2 linked regions of the Homo sapiens genome follow. The protein of the gene in region 2 interacts with the protein of the main gene of each other region in a biochemical or structural test. Each region holds a gene or a part of one and is shown on either strand. Other genes may lie near its edges. The genes, in order: DRD2 and NEFM.

Evidence for each region.
Region 1: the proteins of NEFM (region 2) and DRD2 form a complex in vitro, tested with the Homo sapiens proteins (one study listed by BioGRID).

What each region holds. Positions count from the first base shown.
Region 1 is NC_000011.10:113,409,223-113,416,491, forward strand, and holds the end of DRD2 (D(2) dopamine receptor), read right to left. Parts: intron 6,390-7,269; coding exon 6,199-6,389; intron 5,240-6,198; coding exon 5,153-5,239; intron 3,662-5,152; coding exon 3,334-3,661; intron 1,699-3,333; coding exon 1,505-1,698; 3' UTR 383-1,504; downstream 1-382. UniProt on the Homo sapiens protein: Dopamine receptor whose activity is mediated by G proteins which inhibit adenylyl cyclase. Positively regulates postnatal regression of retinal hyaloid vessels via suppression of VEGFR2/KDR activity, downstream of OPN5.
Region 2 is NC_000008.11:24,908,685-24,916,804, reverse strand, and holds the start of NEFM (neurofilament medium polypeptide), read right to left. Parts: upstream 3,045-8,120; 5' UTR 3,012-3,044; coding exon 1,932-3,011; intron 1,819-1,931; exon of another isoform or gene 1,508-1,818; intron 1,201-1,507; coding exon 1,076-1,200; intron 1-1,075. UniProt on the Homo sapiens protein: Neurofilaments usually contain three intermediate filament proteins: NEFL, NEFM, and NEFH which are involved in the maintenance of neuronal caliber.

The sequences.
Region 1 (7,269 bases), on a different chromosome or scaffold from region 2:
CGGAAGGCTTGGAGCTTGGGACCGGCCTGGAAGCTGAGAGGAGGGAGAACTGTCCAGGCCGCAGTGGTCAGGGCCTTCCCTGCTTCTCCCAGCCTGCCCTAGAGGAAGGGGATCCTGACATGGGACAGAAGACAGGGCAAGGGACATAGGCAGACACAGGCAATGCCAGTGCATCCAAGGCCACCTTTTCCACAGAGCCTTCTCTGCCCTGGTGGGTAAGAGGGCAAAGGATGAGTCCTTCAGAGGAAGCAGGAGCTGCAACAGGGGAGGTGGAGCAGTGGGGGCAACCTGGCTTCCCTTGGGTTAGACCCTGCAGACACAGGGGTCTTGCTATACTTGAATGCCAAGCACAGAAGTGGCACTGCTGCCTTCTACCCAGGGGTCCTGGAAGGTGACTCGTCAAAGTTTTATTAGTTTGGTGCATGGATAGTGATGTTACAGAGTCTAGGCCCCAGGGGCTCTCCCAAGCTGCAGCTTCCCCTCCTTCCTCAGGGCAGGGCCAGGCCAGGCCAGATGGTTTTCAGCAGCCTCTTAGCCGTGGGCTCCTCTAAGGCAGAGGCAGTGGAAGGGAAGGGAAACAGGAGAGAGGAAAGGCCAGAAGGAATAGAAAAGGAAAGTGGTTTTGCGTCAGAGTGTGGCAGAGGCAGTCCCTCAAAGAACCTCTGATGTCCCCTAGCCCAGGCCCAGATAGAGTTCCAGGGCCTGACCTCCCTGCCAGGCCCCAGGCTGGCCAGCATGTGCTGTGAGAAGGGATACATTGCAGGGCCGTCAGAAGGCAGCAGGGTGGGCTAGGCCAAGGAGTTCCTCTCCCCATAGACCCTCCTGGGCCCTTCAAGATGAGGGCTCCTCTTCTCAGAGCATGTGGAAACCACTTGGGGAGCTGTAACGGGGTGAGGTGGGTCCGGACTAGCCTGGAAAGTAGAGGTCCACATCGGGGTGCGGGAGGGAGCTAAGGTTTTTGGCTTGGGAATCTCTGGGGTCCAACCTGCAGTCTGGTATTTACATGGGTCTCCCAGGACTGAAGTTGCCTGGCTCCTCGGCAAGAGAGCTTGCTTGCCTCCTGTGGGCCTTGCAGGGTGTGAACTGTCCATCTCTCCCCACCGCCTGCTCCACGCCAAGCCCCACAAAGAGAAAACTCAGCCTCTGGGCCCTGACTCAGGCTCCAGCAACCCTAGAGCCCCAGAGGAAGGTCAAGGAAGGCGGCTGCATCTTTGGTGCCAAGGATAGGGGGACTGGAGGTGGGAGGGGGGACTCTATGAGCTGCCCCTGAGCTGGGGGGCCCAGCCCCAGGGCTGGTACCATGCCCAGCTCACTAGCACTGCCCTGGCAGAGTGAGGGTGTGCGGGCAGTGAGGAGCATGGAGCCAAGCGAACACTGCAGGGCCTGCCGGGGTGAAGAGGAGGCCGATCCACCCAGGCCTTCCTGCTCACGGTTCGCAAGGGTGAGGCTGGCCGGCCTGGGCAGGGAGGTGGGAAGCAGGCTGCTGTGCGGGCAGGCAGCAGAGTCAGCAGTGGAGGATCTTCAGGAAGGCCTTGCGGAACTCAATGTTGAAGGTGGTGTAGATGATGGGGTTCACGGCGCTGTTGACATAGCCCAGCCACGTGAAGGCGCTGTACAGGACAGGCGGGATGTTGCAGTCACAGTGTATGTTCAGGATGTGTGTGATGAAGAAGGGCAGCCAGCAGATGATGAACACGCCTGGGGGAGAGGGCATGGTCAGGCTGGTCCCCAGAGCCGGGGAGGCACGGCTGGGAACACCCACACCCAGTGCGCCCTGGCTCGTATGCCAAGACGGTGGGCTGTAGCCACAGAAGCACTGTAGGAGGAGTCCAGGTCTTGGATCCTAGACCTGCCTCTGACACCCATTTGCAGTGAAGTATCCCTTCAGCTCCTTCAGCCTCACTTCCCTCATTTGTCCCTTTCCCACCTCCTAGAAAAGGGTACATGGTTTAACAATAAATCCAAAAGGTTACCATTCTGACCCAGGTTAGCCAGTAGAAATGGAAATATCTACTCTACTTCCAGGTCATCTTTGAGGGCTATAGACCCATGCCACTTAGTTCTTATAGCATCCTCATAAGGTACATAAGAAAAACACTCACAACAGCTCTGCAATATACCCAAGGTCATTCACTCTTGAGCAGCGAGGCTGAGAGCTGAACTCCGGTCTATCCAGGTCCCCAGATGATCTCGCTCTAGCCTTCCCCCAATTTCCCCAGTCTTGGTGGGTACACCCTTGCTAGTCCCTGCCTTGAACCATGCCCTCTCACCCAGGGCAGCCACCTACCTGCTCTGCTCACCTAACTCAGGTGCACTTTTTCCAGGACCTCCTGCACAGGTGTGATATTTATCCTGGAAGCAATGTGTACATGGAATGCCCTACAGGCACAGGAGGCATCCCTGGAGACTGAATGGTGTCTGGGAAGAGTAGGGCCACAGAGCTGAGCCCCTATGGACTGCAGCAGAGGGCCTGGCTCCAATCCTAGCCTACCATATCCCAGTCCCATGATCGTGAGTAGTCCCATGGGATCAAGTGCTCTCATTCATAAAAGAAGGGAGGTAACAGCTGCCCCACTCACGCCCCAGGATCATCCGGCAGTCAAAGGGGATTCAGGTGCTTCCTGGAAGACAGAGTCACAGGGGACCCTCCTTTTCCCAGCCACCCATATCAGTCCACCTTTTGGGTTTTGACCTTTACTATGTGGTTTTCTAGACTTCTATTGAAAAATCCTGCTTTATGGACAGGGATGCTTTTCATTTAGATTGGGGGCCACTCCCCAACATCTCATTTATTTTTCACAGCTCTGGTCCCATGGAGTCTTGTTTGAGTGCAAGTGAACTGAATTTCCCAATTCCTCAAAAAGAGCAATAGTAATAAAAACCATAATAGTGACACTTACATATGGATAGTGCTTTGTAGTTTAGAAAATGCTTTCACCAACTGATTGCCATGACAGCCCTGAGAAGTAACCTACTCTACAGATGAGGAGCCTAGAGAGAGAAAGTGACTTTCCTGGGCACATAGGCCCATGAGGTTCTGGTGCCAGCATAATAGACTAGTCAAATTTCCAGACTCTGGAGTCAGACTGCCTGAGTTCAAACCATGGGTCCTCTTGGTCAGGTTTTATAACCACTCTAAAACTCTGTTTGCCCATCTGTAAAGTGAGCACAATTACAGAATCTACCTAATAGGGCTGTCTGTATGTCAATGGGCTTGGCCTGTGCCTGAGGAAATGCTAGCCCCATGATCCTGCAGCCATGGTTAGGAAGGACATGGCAGGGAATGGGACCTTTCACAGACCGGGCTGTGGCCAGCAGCCAGGGCCGACTCACCGAGAACAATGGCGAGCATCTGAGTGGCTTTCTTCTCCTTCTGCTGGGAGAGCTTCCTACGGCTCATGGTCTTGAGGGAGGTCCGGGTTTTGCCATTGGGCATGGTCTGGATCTCAAAGATCTTGGCAATCTTGGGGTGGTCTTTGGCATGCCCATTCTTCTCTGGTTTGGCGGGGCTGTCGGGAGTGCTGTGGAGACCATGGTGGGACGGGTCGGGGAGAGTCAGCTGGTGGTGGCTGGGTGGGATGGGGCTGTACCGGGTCCTCTCGGGTGGGCTGGTGCTGGAGAGCATCTCCATCTCCAGCTCCTGGGCTCGCCGGGCAGCCTCCTGCACCAGAGGCAGAGGGCTCTGGGTAAAGCCGGACAAGTTCCCAGGCATCAGCCACCCATCTCACTGGCCCCTCCCTTTCCCCCTCTGAAGACTCCTGCAAACACCACAGGGTCACCCTGCCAGGGAGGCAAGGATGTCACTGAGGCATGGGACCCAGGACCCATGGCAGCCCCTGCAGGATTGCCCCTGTCCTTTTTCCCATGGCAATCCTCATGCAGCCTCAATACCCCACTTCTGTTCTGCCAGGGCTGAATACCAGGGACTTGTCTCTCATGGCCTGAGCAACACTTACTGTTAGCAAAGTGCCAGGTGCCACAGTGGCTGCTGGGGTCAAGAGCTGATGATGTTTGGCCCTGCCTCCAGAAACTCATGTTCCGACTGCAAAGAGGGTGCCCACCCCTGTTCTCCCTGTCAAACAAGGGGCCCAGTGCTCCCACTTCATGGGTACCTGCACCTGCGTACACACGTGGGCTCCATATTCTCCTGGATAGACTAATCTAGGTGCCAAAAGGCTGACCCCTGGGGCCCCACATCTTCCCTGCTGGGGTGACCTAGAGAGCCCTGGCATGGATCCACTCATGGCCTCCTGGGTTCTTCCATAGGTTCTCTTGTTTGAGGCCTTGGAGGTGTTAGTCTGAACTTCTAAAGTGCAGCCTCACTATGTGCCTAGGTGGCATGACTGGGCTGCTGCCTTGGCCCTGACTCTGAGGCTCTGTTTTGGCACCTGCCTCATAAACAGCTTCTTAGAGTCCTGCCCTTGCAGTGCAGGTGAAGGCAGGACACCAGACCTGGATTTTGTATGCGGCCCTCTGTGGGTTCTCTGGCCCTGTTCTCCATCCCTCTGGAGGATGGAATGCCTGCTGCTTGCATGTTGGTACAGCTACCACCTGGCAGAGGCTGGGGTCTGCTGTGCTTCCGCACCTGAGGGCTCTATGTACACAAACTGCTCCGCCACCAGTCCCCGCAGCTGCTCTGCTGCGTCCTACCCCAGAACCTGCCCATCCATAAGGCAGCTCATGTCAGTGGAAAGAACACAGGTGTGGATTTCAGAGTCACACAGGTCTGGGCTTAGTGTCACCAACTCTTGAGACGGGTGAGTTGCCTAATCTTTCTGAGCCTGTTTCCTCTTCTGTCAACTGAAGATCGGTTCGATCAAAGAGACTTACCTCCCGGGGTCGTGGTGAGGATTTGATGAGATAATAGGGATATGGTAGATGTTTGAGAAATGTGAATAGCCATTATTATCATTTTTATTACGTTGGTATGGCCAACCATTTTCTCGTACACATCCATGCCTTGCAGAACCGAGGTGTCTCACTTCATGCCTGCTTGGAGGTGTGCACGGTGAGTCTGCCTTCAGCTGAGGCAAGGTGGGGGTTTCTGGGGTGCTTCTCCCATTGGCCAGCTTCTGAGGTCTCAGAACCATGGCCAGTGGGCTTCCCTAGGGGCAGAAAGACCTGGCTCTGGGTCCCTGGCCTGAGCACTTACCACTCTCCGCCTGTTCACTGGGAAACTCCCATTAGACTTCATGATAACGGTGCAGAGTTTCATGTCCTCGGGGTGAGTACAGTTGCCCTGTGGAGTGAGCCAGCACATGGGTCACACAAAGTGGTGGGGATGGAGGGGGGACAGAAACCCAAAGTGCAGCAGTCCATGGAACTCAGACTGGGCAGAAGGGCTCAGAGATCAGGAGGGTGGGGGCCAGAGGAGGCAGTTGGGGCAAGGGGGAAGGCTGGAATGAGACAAAAAGTGGTGGGTATGACGAGGAACACAAGGACCTGGTTTTTTATGGAGCACCTGCTAAGGGCCTGGCACTGTGCTAGGCACACTCACGTCCCTTCTCACGTGGAATCCTCAAGACCACCCTGTGAGGCTGGTATTTTGATTCCCATTTAACAGATGAGGAAACAGGCTCATAGAAGGTAAGCAACTTGCCTAAGGTCACTCAGCAAAAAAAGTGTCAGTGACAGGATCTGAACCTGATGCGTCTAGCCCAAGAGCTCTTGTTCCTTCTGTGCCCACACACTGTCTTCCTTGTGAAGGACTGAGTGAAGGGGAGAATTCACAAGACATCAGGGGGGAAATGAAAGAGAAGCACAGGAGAGACATAGTGGAGAGGAAGTCAGGAAAAGTGATGTGTGTTTGGAGGGGAGGACAGAGAGTACGGAAGGTAAAGGAAAGAGGATGGAGGAGTCAGAGGGAGCTAAAGTGAGACAGAGAAACCAGAAAAGAGGAAGAGAGGAGCCCACGGGGGTACCAAGCAAGAGTTGCCGCCTTCAGTCACAAAGATCTCCAAGCAAAGACTTCCCCTTGTTATTTAGTGTCATGGACCCTGCCTCCCTCTCCTGGAGACTCAGATTGCTCCACTGAGGTCCATGCCTTCAAAATCTGCCCTTGCCCGGCTCCTGGGAATTCCTTTAGCCTAGACCTAACCCTTGCTGAGGTTTCCCAAGCCCCCACCTGAGCATAAGATGAGCCCTCTTGGTAATGGTTAGGTGGGGACCCTTGGAGTTGGTTGGGGGGTGTCTTGAGACCTTTAGTGGAGCCCTCAGGTGGGCCCTGAAAGCTCGGCTGCTGCGTTTGGTGTTGACTCGCTTGCGGCGTCTGCGGAGGACAATGTAGATCTTGATGTAGACCAGCAGGGTGACAATGAAGGGCACGTAGAAGGAGACGATGGAGGAGTAGACCACGAAGGCCGGGTTGGCAATGATGCACTCGTTCTGGTCTGGGGGAGGGAGAGCCCGGGCAGGCAGGGAGTCAGCGGGCCCACCGGCCATAATTCCACAAGAGCCCATTCATGTCCTTCCAGGAACAAGGAGCGATTTTACAGAGAATATGAACGCAACTAGATGTTTAAGGCTGCCTGGTCATCTTAGATATACACAAACGCACAGCAGATACCAGAGTATTAAAAACACGGTTGTGAGCAAAAAGTTAAGCTGTGATGATGGACTGCTCCCAAGTCTTTCCATTACTATTCCCTCATTACTTGGTCATTAGTTTTGCCATGTCTGGGCATAACAAGTGAAGCCGATGTATCCAGAAAGAATGACACAAGAAAACTTTTAAAAGAGTAAACCATCTTTTTAGTCTGACCTGTGTATTGGGAGAGGTTGGCCACCTTTTAATGTTTGCAGCAAGATAACTTGGCTCTGTCTGTTGAACTCACTTGTGTTCCTATGTGTTTCATATGTTTGCGTGCCCTTCTAGGTCTACCAGACGCCTGTCCTCTATCTCAGGGCCTTGTGCATTAATCCAAGTATGTTTAGTGTTATTCCCACTTAGAATTCCTGTGATGCTTATAATAGATACCGAACCACACATTTTCAAGGCTTCACTGTATCTTTTGTTGTTACGATCTCCAGAGGTGCACACCTGCCATCGCTCTTGCCTCCCTGATGAGAGGAAGTTCCACGCTGGCGGGGGCTTTGTGTTGCCTCTGTCTGAGACACTCCTGACTCTGCCTCCCACAGAAATGGGCATGTGGTCAGCTTACCTCCTATTCACTTCTAGCTTTCCTGCTCCAGGTGGCTAAGGCCTGACCTGGGTTTAGCAGGCCCTGAGGGCTGCAGCTTCATTACAAAAATACTATTGTCAGGAGTGGA
Region 2 (8,120 bases):
ACACCCAGCTACTAAGTCTTGGCCCTGCAGTAGAGATCCATTAGGTACAACATGAATATGCTGAAAAACTTGTTAGTGGCCAAATAGCAAAAAACAAAAACAAAAACAAAAAAACAAAAAGCCATAAACAAAACGCCCCCAAACTCCAAAGCCAAACAGCCTTTCTGAGAGTAGTCACTTTCTTAAACGTTTAGATTTTCAGGTGTATCGAGTTATAAATTTGTTGATAATTTTTATCATAAAGTGTCTATTTAATGTAGTTATTCAGCTTTCCTGAAAAGAGAGATAGCTCTGTAAATGCAATTTATTCTCGTTATATTATAACTACCTTATTGGTAGCAGAAAAATTTTAATCAACGATTTTGTCCTTTGCGCTTAGTCAACAGCAAGGTCACTTCAGTTAATAGACCTATAACCTATCTCACTATCTATAAAACGATCATATATATTTGTGTCTATATATCTAGATTTATATGCATATGCACATATGTGTATCTATAGATCTAGATTAATATCATACATGATATATTGATATAATTTATACTACAGTCTAGCATAAAATATAATACATATAAATTATCTACATATATAAAAGAACTATATCTATATTCTATCATTCTATATCTATTCTCAGCCAGATGATGGCAATAGTAAGCTATATAACAGAGAAACAGAGAAATAGAACGTCCTGGTGTTTGTCCTTGACATTATACATTTGAAAAGCTGAAACCACTAGATGAAATATTAGAAACCAAAACTCTGTTCATGCTTCCAGCATTTGAAAACATTTTTCCATAAAAAGTTTAAGCATGTGCATTGAGATTAATCTGCACCTCCTTTGTGTAATTCAAAAACCTTTTGTTTCTACTAGTATTCATTCTTTTAAAGCTGCATAAAAAGAGATAAAACTACACTTGCAATTCTTTAGAATAATTTCTTTTTAAGTAAGCAAGATAACCAGGTGCTGAGTTGATGCCTGCACCCTGCCTGCTTTAACTTAAGTGGTGGAAGCTCTGCCGGAACAGCCTCTGCACTGCGGTTAGTGTTCCGGCCACGCACGTAGTAAGCATCGTACCTGTACGCAGCGATTTCTATATCCAGAGCCATCTTGACGTTGAGGAGGTCCTGGTATTCGCGCAAATGACGAGCCATTTCCCACTTTGTGCCCCGAAGCTCATTTTCCAGCTGCTGGATGGTGTCCTGAAACAGACACAGAGAATCTCCCCAGACTCATCCTTGCAAACAGCAACTTCCTTCGCAAACCACTTGCTACCCCTTCCCCCTGGCCTCCTCCCGTCTCCCTCCACTTCTGCAAACCTCGCTGACACCTGACTCCCAGCCCCCCGTCCCACCCCCTTTTTCTTTTAAATCTAAGCGATTCTCAAATGAACATACAAGATCAGTAAGACAATAGGACACTTCCTGGGCACATCACGCACGGAGACCAGTGGACTTAGAACACGTCTCAACAGGACACAAACATGCATGGGGAAACTCCATGGCTGACCTGGCCATTCCCATCTGAGCCCTTTGGGCTGAAGCCAATTTTGAGAGCTCTTCCGATCACTGCCGGAAAAGTAGAGAATACACGCGTTTCTGCATAAGCTATCCTAAAGTTGCTGATTTATCCACTACCGAATTCATCCCTCCTGCTTTAAACGTGCAAGCGTGCAAAATTAGAACTGGAAAAGATGCACGTTTCTGAAAAAGGTCAAGACCCTTAGCAGCTGGGGCAGGTGGGTGGGGGCGGAGTGTGGAGGATGAGATGGGCGAGGACGCTGATCCGCAAATACCCTAGGTCTGCGGCGCGCGTGCTCTAGCGAGCGGCCACCAGGGAGCGCGGCGGAGAGGGCGCCTGGGCACGAGCCCAAGTGTCGGGGGCGCGCGGCGCTGGCGCTGGCGCAGGCTGGCCGCGCAGCCGCGGTTCCTACCTGGTAGCTGCTGAGGTCGTGGTTGTGGCGCTCCTCGATGTCGCTGAGCTGCCGCTCCAGGGACTCCTTGGTGCCGCGCACCGACTCTAGCTCGATGCTCTTGGACTGCAGCTGGCGCCGGTACTCGGCGATCTCTTCCTTGGCGGAGCGGATGGCCTCCTTGTTCTGCTCGGCCGCCTCGGTGAGCTTGGCGTAGCGGCATTTGAACCACTCTTCGGCCTGGTGCATATTCTGGTCTGAGTGGCTTTCGAGCTGGGAGCGGATTTCCTTCAGCGCCGTCGAGATGTCTGTCTTCAGGTAGTCTTTGCGCTCCACCGTGATGTGCGATGCCTGGATCTGGGCCAGAAGGTCGGCCACCTCCTCCTCGTGGTTGCTCCGCAGGAAGGCCACCTCATCCTGCAGCGACTGCACCTTCTTGTCCAGCTCCACCTTGACCAGCGACGCCTCCTCGATGTCTTTGCGCAGCGCGCGGATGGCCGCCTCAGTGTCGTCGCGCAACCGCGCCTCCTCCTCAAAGCGCTCCTTGAGCCGGTGGATGTCTTCCTCCAGGTGGTCCGAGTCCAGCTGCACCTGAGCCTTCTCGTGGTTCACCATCTCCAGGGTGGCGCGCAGCTCGCGGATCTCCTGGTCGTACGCGTCGCCCAGCTGGGCGTGCGAGGCCTGCTTCTGCCGCAGCGCCTGGATCTCCGCCTCAATCTCCTTATTCTGCTGCTCCAGGTAGTGCACCTTCTCTATGTAGCCGGCAAAGCGGTCGTTCAGCCCCTGCAGCTGCTCCTTCTCGTTGGAGCGGGACAGCTTGTAGTCGCCGCCGGGTCCGGAGCCGCCGTTGAGCAGGGACGAGGACTGGCTGAAGTCAAGGCTGCTCTCGGCGGAGCTGAGCATGGCCGAGCTGTAAGCGAGGCGCGGGGCGAGCATGCTGCGCTTATAGGAGGAGGACACGGTGCTGGGCGAGCCGCGGGACCACGACTGCGAGCGGAAGCCACTGGACGGGGAGCCGCTGACGCGGCTGAAGCTCGAGCGGGTCTCGGTTACCCGCCGGTAGGCGGACGGGTTGCCCAGCGAGTCCAACGTGTAGCTCATCTTGGAGGCCTTGGGGCGTGTGGCTGTCACAGCGTTCTGCCGGCCTCGCCGCAGCCCATTTATAGCCGCGGCGCTGGTCCCGGGCCAGGGCCCCGCCCCGTGGAGGCGGCGGCCGAGGAGGCGGGGACTGCGGGCACCGGTCGGGGAGGAGGGGAGGGGGGCGGCTGAACGGTGATTCAGCGCCCGCTCCACGTGGGCCCAGGCCGCATGGGAACCTGGACTTTTCTGCCCTGGGCCCAGCCCCTCCCCCAGGTCCCCTTTCAGTCCCAGGCTACTTGTAGCCGGGCATTCGCCTTCTTTCCATTTCTCACCTCCCGATTGCGTTTCGCACCCTTGGTGCGAATATCGCCAGCGCCCTTTCTTTGTCACTGTCCCGCCGTTCAGGCAGCGCTTCCCCGACCCCGTGGTCCCCTTGTTCTTTAGCCTTCTACCCTCTTATCCTCAAGGCTTTCTCTTATTTTGCCCTTTCCCTGATACTTTTTTCTTTACCCATCTTCTGTGCTTAATTTCATCCCCTTCTTTTTTGGCCCCTCTTCTCCTTCCTACTCTGGCCTTTAGTCCAGTTCACCCTGCCCTTCTCTCAGCCCCTTCCTCGGAGATCCTTTTCTTCCAATCTTTCCTTCTCCCCGTCTCCTCCCTCCTTCCCCTTGCATTCCCTCTTTTCCCCTCCCCCACCCTCATCTTTTCTTGCCTCCCTCCCCTTCCCCCACCCCTTGTCTTAAAGCAGCTGGAGATGAGCGCCGAGGAGCTGGGTCTAGAAGACAAAACAAAACAAAAAAAAAGACTTTGCGGAACGGTCTGCCTGAAGGCTTCGGGAAGGGGACAAAGAGAACAGGCCGGGGTAGTTATTTGTATAAAAAGTGGGATATGGCGTTTTTAACGTTTGGGGGACGTCCGCAGCTTCCGCAGGGGCAGAAGGTAAGGCGCTTGTGCTCGCTATGGCGCCGGCAGCACCAAGGACAGCGCCCAGGTCGGCGAGTGGGAGGTGCAGCCACCCGGGGGGCTTGTCACCCAGCCTGGCCTGTCAGGTTGGCAGGGGGCAGGGGGTTCCCTTCCCCCTCTTCTCTCCGAGTAAATACAATTTAAACCTGCCTGTAGTGACTATCTTTGCAGGAGCGAAGCTGGAATCACAGGCTAAGACTTCCCTGCAATGCAGGGTTGGCACAATGGACAGATCGCAGATTTTGAAAACAACCAAAATTCATTAAAGTCAGTTAACAGAAATATATACTTGTAGCCCAGTTTGAGTTTTCTAACATATGGTGGTATAGGAAATGAAGAGATACAGGGCCTGAAATGTGAAGGTCAAATACTCCTTGGAAAGGAGAATTTGAAATCTGTTGGGATGAAAAGTCCAGGGAAATATAGTTTTTCTTAAGTTTGGACACAGACAATTGCCTTGTCATCTTTCGGTTCAGTATTCCCTATGTGTAACTGCAATGATTGAAAAGGCATCTGAATTAACTTTAAATTGATTTAAAAGTTGCGGAACAGAGTCACCACAACCTTGAATAAAATCAGATGTTTTCCCTTCATTTAAAATGTAATATATTTTTCGCTTTAGATTTTAATGATTGATTTGGAATAGATTTTCTATATCATTAAACATGTTTATGCAAACAAGAACTCTACACAGACTTCTTGCTGTCTGGTGTACTCCTGTTAAAATGTCCCTTTATTTTGGGTAGTGCTTTGGGGGTAATTCAGGTTAAAAAAGTTCAGAATACTACAAGATAAAGTGAAGAAGAGATTGCAGAACTAACAACAGCGCTGGGGCCACAGGTACAAGTGACTGAATGTGCAACGCTTGCTATGGGTGAGAAGAAACTACTGCTTATAAAAAGTAGGGACTCCAGACCGAAATAGCTTCTTTTCACAGCATGTTTCCTTAAGTCCCTGTTTTATTAAAAGACAGGATCATATTCATCAGTAAGTAATCAGGAAAGGGGTGGGTTTCTAGAGGTTTTATTTTTTATTTTTATCAGCTCCCTTGGCCCATCTGTATTAAAATAGAAATAATGTTTTAAACAGGAGGTGCTAATTTTGGGAGTTACTTTGGTTTATTAATATGAAACTGCAGTATCGCAGGCCATGTAGGAGAAGGATGTTCTAGTTTGCTGAGAGACCTTAGGCAAGCAGAGCCCATCCATGTCTTGAGTTGTTGAGAGAGACAGATGATGGAATGAGGGGACTGACTTGTGAATACTGTAAAAACAGGATTTTCTGGTTTTATGTAGATAAATAAAGGCAAGGAGAAAGAAAATTCCCTGCCTTCTGTAAAGTATTGCGGATGTCAGGCTGGACTCAGCAGGATACCATCTAGATAAGGCCAAATGCTAATTATGCAGTAATTTTGCCTTTGTTGCTTATTACTTTCTGCTTTTATTGAAATATATAAAAATCCTTGGCAATTTCATGGTGCACATTCACTGCAAACTCTGCAATGAGAGTACATGGTTAACCGGCAGCCTTCTGCTGTTAATTTTCTTTAGGGCTTTGGAAACGAGATGACTCTGCAGAGAGACATTTACAAGGAAACACATGTCTAACTTCACAATTACCCAGTTTTGCCTTGTATCTGAAGTAGCTGAGAAATTGTTCAGCTTCCAGCTGGTTACAGAAGGAGGAAAGTGTTGCGTACAAACAAAATAAGTCAGTTACTCAGGCTACATCTAGTGCCTATAACTTAAAATTGTAACTTCAATGTCACATGATATATTGTTCAATCTGGGCACTACAGGATAATGCAAAGAATTAAAACAGTTGTTTTATTAAGAAAAAACAGTTCCCATGGCTTAAAAAATGATGGATCCAGTTTCACATTTAGCAAAATGTTTTCTTTTATATTAAACTCTTCCACTTTAACTACTCTTCCTAAAGGTGATTTGAAGGTTATACCCATCAGTAAATTTAGTATGAAAACTTTTTTTAAAAAGCTATAAAAGATGTTTTTCCCTTTTTGTCTCATAGTTTTGAAGAATATTTACCATCTTAATAGTTTTCACAGAAAGAAATGCTTTTGCATTTTTTTAAACCCTAAGAACACTAAGGCTATGAAATCTTCTCAAAATATTAAAAAGAGAGAAAACAATCATGGCAACTCACCCGGATTAACCACACTGCATTCATGGAATTAAGTTTGACTACGATACTTTTGTAATTTATTCTAAATAGAAAAGTTTCTCATATGATTTAGATGTAAGACATTTTAAATGAAATTATCTCTGAATTGTTGTTTCATAAGCTACAGTCTGTTTTGAATCACTTTATAGAGAAATACAAGGCATGCTCCAATCTATATGTTCCTTCAGTAGGGAAAGTGAAAATGTTAACTTTGCAGCTAAGAGATGATAGCCACTGTCAGGTTTTGTAGGGTGTCATCTAATACTGGGAAAATATCATTTGCAAAGGTGGTATATTTACTGGGTCATAAAATAAAGATAAAAAATAAGGAGTTAGGCATTTTCTCCCATCTTTCCCTATTTCCTTACATTTCTTCTTTTAAATAGCATTTTTGGATATAAAAAAATGCAAGGAGGATGGGATGTAGGAACTGGATAGCAAGAAAGATACTCCAGATGGACAACGTCACTTTCAAATTGGTAGGCTGAATCCATCCAAGATGAGATGATCTGTACTTTCTTTCAACCTATTGTGTCTTGAACTTAATCCGTTTGCCTGGGATCTGGTTCTAGAACTCATAATAATTATTTATAACCTGTCCTCTGCTAATTGTTTAAGGGGTTGTTGATGTAGGAAGCTAGGGACTTAGTCTGCCGAAGCAGGAACACAAGAAAAAGGAAGCTATATTACATATTTCTACTTGATCCTCAGGATGTCAAACTTTAAAAGCAGTGTTGACTTTTGATTTTGTTGTTGTCAAGAGTTGAAAGCAAAATAAAAATATTCTCAGGGGAGAAAGACTGTTTCTTGTCAGGGAAATTGGGATGTATATGTATGTCCCTATTGTCTTTGATCAAAACAAATCCATCTAGACCACAGTGTTCCTTTTCTGTCATTAGGCCACTGAAATGGTGTTTGTTTCCCTTGCCAAATATTTTATTCTTTGAATATTGCCTTCTATTTGTCAGTTACTGTTATGATGAAGTTAATTGAAGTATTTACAAAACTTAAAACATTTAATCTTTATTATATTCCAAATGTTAAATTAATCAGTTTTAAAATTCTATATCTGGAAATTTCATGTGTGTGGTGGGGGAAAATTTAGCTTTTGGCTTTAACATAGCTTGCTGATTTTTTTGCTGTGTAATGCTTTCACCTCTCCACTGTGAATCCTTTCTGTGAAAGCCAGGGGAGAAAGATTTAGAATTTTAAAAAAGTACTTAATAGAGCCTTGGTAAAAGTGACTCTAAAAATAAAGTTCAGTAGATGCATAATAAAAGAGTACTCCTGTATTAATTTTCAGCATGTTTTTAACTGAACCCATTAGCTTTACCTATAAAGCAGCAACAGATGTTGATGATATGCACTTGAATTTTGAAAACCCTGCCTTGCACGTAACTGCACCAGTGCAGCTATGAAATATTTATGACATATTTTATCCCAAGCTTACCAAGGCCTGACTTAGCAAGAGACATAATTCTTTTATTAGAAACTCTTAATTAAAATGAGCTTCGTAAAACTAGAGCAGATCAATGATCTTTGGACCAAATTTCTGAAAAGAGCTAAACCTGGGAACAGAAAGTCACAAAGAAGCCCCACCTAATAATTCAGTCTCATTGTCCCAGGACTGGGTGATTTTTTTTCAATCTCTGCAAATTTGAAAATCAATATTCTTTCATAATCCTTTGAAAATGGGCTCACTGTCATAGCTCTGTCTTGTCACTTAGCTTATTAAGAAGAGCATCTATTTTAGAATACTTAACTCACTTTTTTGGTTAAAATTTATATATATATGGAGTGTAGAAATTTGCAAAATGGAGAGAGACAATAATTTAAGTATTTTCTTCTAGTCTTTTTCTCTGTAACTTAAATATAAATAGGATCTTTCTGTTTATATAATCCCATGCCCTGTTTTGTAAAGTAAATATATCTGAATAAGTAGTGTGCTATCTTTAGAGGAAAGAACATGGTCCTGTTTGCCATGAG